Linked DNA regions of Homo sapiens: region 2 is linked to region 1. A link means that fine-mapping ties the variant in region 1 to the expression of a gene that starts in the linked region. Tissue or cell type: sun-exposed skin. Region 1 holds a variant in brackets; the other region holds the start of a gene. All regions are shown on one strand. Distances are from middle to middle.

Region 1 (2,752 bases):
GCCTTATTGCCCCTGAGACTCTGTCATGGATTTGTACAAAATGAAAAGGTGAAAGTCACCCATCCCCAGTTGCACTGCACAGAGGCAACTGCTTTCTGTGGTTTGGTCCTGCACTGCTTTGAACATAACTAGTCACTGATGAAGCTTCCCTAGGAGCACGTGTGTTTTAAGCCACCATGGCCACCATTGTCAGTATCATACACCACATTCCTATGGGCCTTCATGCCACAAGGCTCCTGGGTGATCTATTTCAATGTAACCTGGAGAGTGTTCTGTGGACATCAGGACTGGGAGAAATTCCTCCAAAAAGGGCTCTGATGTCAAAGAGGTGTGGAAAACCACGCACAATCTGTCTACCTCTTGGAAAGCTGCAGTGCATGTTAGCACATTCAAGACTGACAAATCCTGCAGTGAGTAGCTCTGTTCAGCTTATAACTCAGCTTTCCCCAAAATTATTAGATCCCAGGCAACTCTTTCAGGAGCACCTTATTACAGCTTCATTTATTCAACAAATATCTACTGAGGTCCTATTTTGTGTCAGGCATTATGTTAAGTGCTGGGGATATTATGGTGAACCAAAAAGACAATCCCTGCCCACGTGGAGCTGACAGTGTGGTGGGAGAGACCATCAGTAAACAAACAGATTAATGATTACGAATTGTGGAAAATGCCAAATAAGAAAAGATTGGGATGCTGTGAGAGAATAGGCAAGATCTACATTCGACTGAGCGGGGGTCAGAGAAGCCCCTTCTGACATTTCCTCTCAGACCTAGAAGAAGAGAAAGCAAGGTAGGGAACAGCGACATGAAGCCTCTGAGGCAGGAGAGAGCATGGCAGCTCAGGGACCTGAACAGACCAGCATGACTGGCAACAGGGAGGGCCGGCTGGCAGAATTGACTCAGGCCTCATACTGTGCTGGAAATGCAGGTCTGTGTCCCTCTGTAATAACAGAGGCTCATCATCAATGATATCCAGGTTCTCCTGAGCTGGGGTGAGGGGGTGTGGAAGGGACAGGGACTAAATGCCCTTTGACTAGCCACTAACCAGGTGGCTAGTTTCCCCTCATGCTTTCTGAGTCCACATGAGCTTTCAGAACCCAGGCTCAGGTCTCTTCTGCTGTCTGGCAATGACCCCCCTTTGCCAAGCCCTGGGCCAGGCACGTGTCACATACAGCCCAGTTGGCCAATCAGCCTCATCTGCCTGCAGGTGGCATTGTGAAAGGGGACGAGATCATGGCAATCAACGGCAAGATTGTGACAGACTACACCCTGGCTGAGGCTGA[G/C]GCTGCCCTGCAGAAGGCCTGGAATCAGGGCGGGGTAAGAATAAGGCCCCTCCCTCCTTTCCTCCCTCACCTGCCTGCCTCAAACCCTGGCCTCTGCAGCCAGGTCTCACAATAGGATGCCTCATTCCAGGGTGGGCATCTGGAGTCCAGGCAACACTTTGGTGACACCATACCCCATCCAGCCTGTGGTTTAAATCTGACAAGATGGGATTCAGAAAAATAGATGTCAATTCCTGACCTTGGATCCAAAAAGCCAGTGGCTTAAACAGACTCTTGAAGCCAGGGCATGGCAGGTCACCCAAGAAAAAGACTTAAGGTCTTTTCTAAGTGCACACTGAACAAGAATCAAGAGAATTCTGGGGGCTACCAGAAAGCATTAACAAAAGCAGAGAACCCAGGATGAAGGAGGGGCTGGTGGGAATCTGCTCTGCACTCATTAGACACCCACCTGGATCACGGCCACTGCATAAGATTGCCCAGGCTGTGCACTACATAATCTGAGGGGGTGCCCTTTTACAGACTGTAGTGTGAATGGTGCCTGCTCATGGTGTGCAATGCACAACCTGTGCAACTGTATGCAGGCAGCCGAGCCTGAGGTATTAAGTTCAGTGCCGAGGAAGCTGACCAGATGGGCCTGGGACCCACATGAAGGGATGTGGAGAAGAGAAGACTCACGGGTAACATGATGACTATCTTTGATTATCTGAAGGTCTGCATTAGGGCAGAGGGAGCAGAAGTGTTCTCTCTGATTCTTGAGGGAAGACCTGGATTGGATGGAGGGAAGTCCTGGGGAAAGAGAGAGAGATTTCAGCTCAATATTAGGAACCAGCTCATGGTAGAGGGGCCCAGTGATATTTCCAATACTTTTCAGGGGATACACCTAAGCCAAGGAGGGAGAATGAGGGGCAAGTCAAGGATGGCAGTAAAAGGGATTCAGGTGTTAGGATCAAAAAGCTGGGCCAGAAGTCCCCCACTTGATTGTGCATCAGAAAGTGCGTCGGAATTACCCAGAGAGGTTGTTAAAAGTACTATTTCCCAGGACTCACCCTTGACTTCTGGGGGCCAAGTCTACGAGCCTACACTTTTAAGAAGTTCCCCCAAGTGATTCTGAGGTTGCTGCCTGTCCCCGGTCCATAGATTGACATTTGGGAGCTGAGTGTCATTCAAGGGCCTTGCAGCCCTGTCCTCTATGGTCCCGAAGCCTCAGAGACTAGAAACGTCCTCAGACCATGGAAGTCACAGTGGGCCCCAGGTGGGCCCGTGGGAAGAAGGTGCAGCCTGGCTGATCCTAGGCCATGGGGCCCAGAAATGGGGATGGAGTGCCGGGGCAGATGCACCATCCAACTGAGTGTGCCCCAGAGTCACACGGCTTCTCCCCACAGGACTGGATCGACCTTGTGGTTGCCGTCTGCCCCCCAAAGGAGTATGACGATGAGCTGTAAGTGTGTGCAAGCACCTAGCCTGAGACCT
Region 2 (2,628 bases), 110 kb after region 1:
GAGCCTGGGTCCCCCAGTGCCCGAGGCAGCCCTAACACACTGTTCAGGCCTAAATACCACCCATGACCTAACGTGGAAGAAGTCAGGTGACAGGTGTGAGAAAGTGTAAAGCAAGTGGCCTCGGCTCAAACCTTCTTTAAAGTAGGGCCGGAATGGCTGAGAAGATGGAGCCGCCCAGGCTGCCCCACAGCAGTAGCAGGTGTTAAACTGTGCTCCTTTCCTGCCGAGGCCTTTTTTTTTTTTTTTTTTTTTTTTTTTTTTAATGAGAGGGAGTCTGAGCTTCCATCAGATTGTCAAAGGATTCAAGACTAAGATTAAGAGCATCCCCCAAAGAGAAGCAGCTGCAGGTTGAGAAGTCCTCGGACCGCCTAATTTCCGCCAGCCCTGGGATTGGTGGCGCCGCCTCTCAGCGCCTCCTTTCCCGGGGAACCTGCAAACCTGGCGCGGCCGAGAGGCGGATTACTGACCCAAATACGGATGGGGATATTGGGGGAGGGGAGCCAGGGCGACAGGGCGGCGGCCCCAGACTGGGAGGGCGGGTCACAGATCCCTCCCAGCCCCCCACTTTCGTAGAGCGTGGGCAGGAGGAACCTCTGGGTTCCGCGGATCAGAAAAACTCCAAAGGCCGGGTTGTGAGTCCCGGGAGGGGAGGTGGAGGGCGGGGGCGGGGAGGGGCGCGGGAGGGGCGGGGGCTTGCTCCGGCCCCGCCCCCTGCGCTCCGGTGCAGGTCGGGCTCCCCCTGGCGGTCCCCGGCCCCGTTCCTCTCCTCGTGCGCCCCCCTCCCGCCGTCCTAGACCCCTGCCTAGCCCAGGTCGGTCTCCGCGGACCCACGGACGGACAGACAGACGGGAGGACGGCCAGCCGCGAGCGCCCGGGCGGCGGGAGGGGGCGGGGAGGCGACGGCCGTGGCGTGAGGAGCAGGAGCAGGTGCAGCGGCGGCGGCGGGCGGGGCCGGGACCCGGCGCGGAGCGGGAGCCGCGGCGCGGGCGGGCGGCAGGGACCGGGAGGCCGCGACTCGGAGTCAGCCCCGCCGGGTCGCGCGCAGGTCCGGGGAGCCGCGGTTGAGCCGGGTGGGGTGGTGACTCCAGAGAACGCAGGATCCCAAGGAGACAGAGAGGACGAGAGCTGGAGGGGGATCCGGAAAGCGGCGGGGGCGCTCCGGGAGGGGTGGAGTAGGACATAGGGGGCGCACCTGGAGGAGAGACGGGGCGGGGGTGGCCAGGACCTGAGCTGGAGCCTGGGAGCCCGAAGGCCAGACAGGTGAGGCGGGAGACCCGGAGGTGGGGGTGAGGTCCGGTTAGTGGGAGAGATCCGGAGGTGTTAAGTTCTGAGCTGGGCTGGGAAGGCAGGCTGGGCGGGGAGAAGGGCTCTTAGCGGGAGGCCCAGGGGTGGTCAGCTGGTGGGGGAAGCTGGGGGAGGACGCAGGGCCAGGTGGAGAGCCGGCAGGGTTGGGGGCTCCCTAGGCGCCAGGCAGGTGGGCTCAAGGGTGAGGCTGTTTTTTTTGTTTTGTTTTTTGTTTTTGAGACGGAGTCTCGCTCTGTCGCCCAGGCTGGAGTGCAGTGGCGTGATCTTGGCTCACTGCAACCTCCGCCTCTCGGGTTCAAGCGATTCTCCTGCCTCAGCTTCCTGAGTAGCTGGGATTACAGGTGCGCACCACCATGCCCGGCTAACTTTTGTATTTTTAGTAGAGATGGGGTTTCACCATGTTGGTCAGGCTGGTCTCGAACTCCTGACCTAGTGATCTGCCCTCCTCAGCCTCCCAACGTACTGGGATTACAGGCGTGAGCCACCGCGCCCGGCCTGAGGCTGGTATTAAGAAGTGAAGTGGGACCCAGGTGGAGGTAAGGAAGAGTCTGGTGGGGAGTTATCTCAGAAGTGAGGCCAGCACAGGCTGAGTGCAGCCCCAGGGTGAGAAGGTGCCCACCGAGAGGACTCTGCAGTGAGGCCCTAGGCCACGTCCGAGGGGTGCCTCCGATGGGGGAAGCCCCTCCCTGGGGGTCACCGGAGCCATGCTGTCCCGCAAGGGCATCATCCCCGAGGAATACGTGCTGACACGCCTGGCAGAGGACCCTGCCAAGCCCAGGTACCGTGCCCGCCAGCGGAGGGCCCGCTTTGTGTCCAAGAAAGGCAACTGCAACGTGGCCCACAAGAACATCCGGGAGCAGGGCCGCTTCCTGCAGGACGTGTTCACCACGCTGGTGGACCTCAAGTGGCCACACACATTGCTCATCTTCACCATGTCCTTCCTGTGCAGCTGGCTGCTCTTCGCCATGGCCTGGTGGCTCATCGCCTTCGCCCACGGTGACCTGGCCCCCAGCGAGGGCACTGCTGAGCCCTGTGTCACCAGCATCCACTCCTTCTCGTCTGCCTTCCTTTTCTCCATTGAGGTCCAAGTGACTATTGGCTTTGGGGGGCGCATGGTGACTGAGGAGTGCCCACTGGCCATCCTGATCCTCATCGTGCAGAACATCGTGGGGCTCATGATCAACGCCATCATGCTTGGCTGCATCTTCATGAAGACTGCCCAAGCCCACCGCAGGGCTGAGACCCTCATCTTCAGCAAGCATGCGGTGATCGCCCTGCGCCACGGCCGCCTCTGCTTCATGCTACGTGTGGGTGACCTCCGCA

The links. PIP is the estimated chance that this variant, and not a neighbour inherited with it, causes the effect.
Region 2: KCNJ11 starts here. The variant in region 1 is fine-mapped to the expression of KCNJ11 in sun-exposed skin (GTEx, PIP 0.99).

Annotation. Positions count from the first base shown.
Region 1 is chr11:17,496,726-17,499,477 of GRCh38, reverse strand. It overlaps USH1C (USH1 protein network component harmonin), which reads left to right. Exons shown (of 27, transcript NM_153676.4): 24 at 1,207-1,316; 25 at 2,665-2,720. Among named protein-coding and RNA genes, the nearest start is that of ABCC8, 21 kb to the right of the region's middle. The variant G/C (reference allele first, on the strand shown) is at 1,283.
Region 2 is chr11:17,387,473-17,390,100 of GRCh38, reverse strand. KCNJ11 (potassium inwardly rectifying channel subfamily J member 11) reads left to right here and starts at 1,442. Exons shown (of 1, transcript NM_000525.4): 1 at 1,442-2,628. The coding sequence starts at 2,010. RefSeq lists silencers at 362-461, 542-1,051 and an enhancer at 2,260-2,628.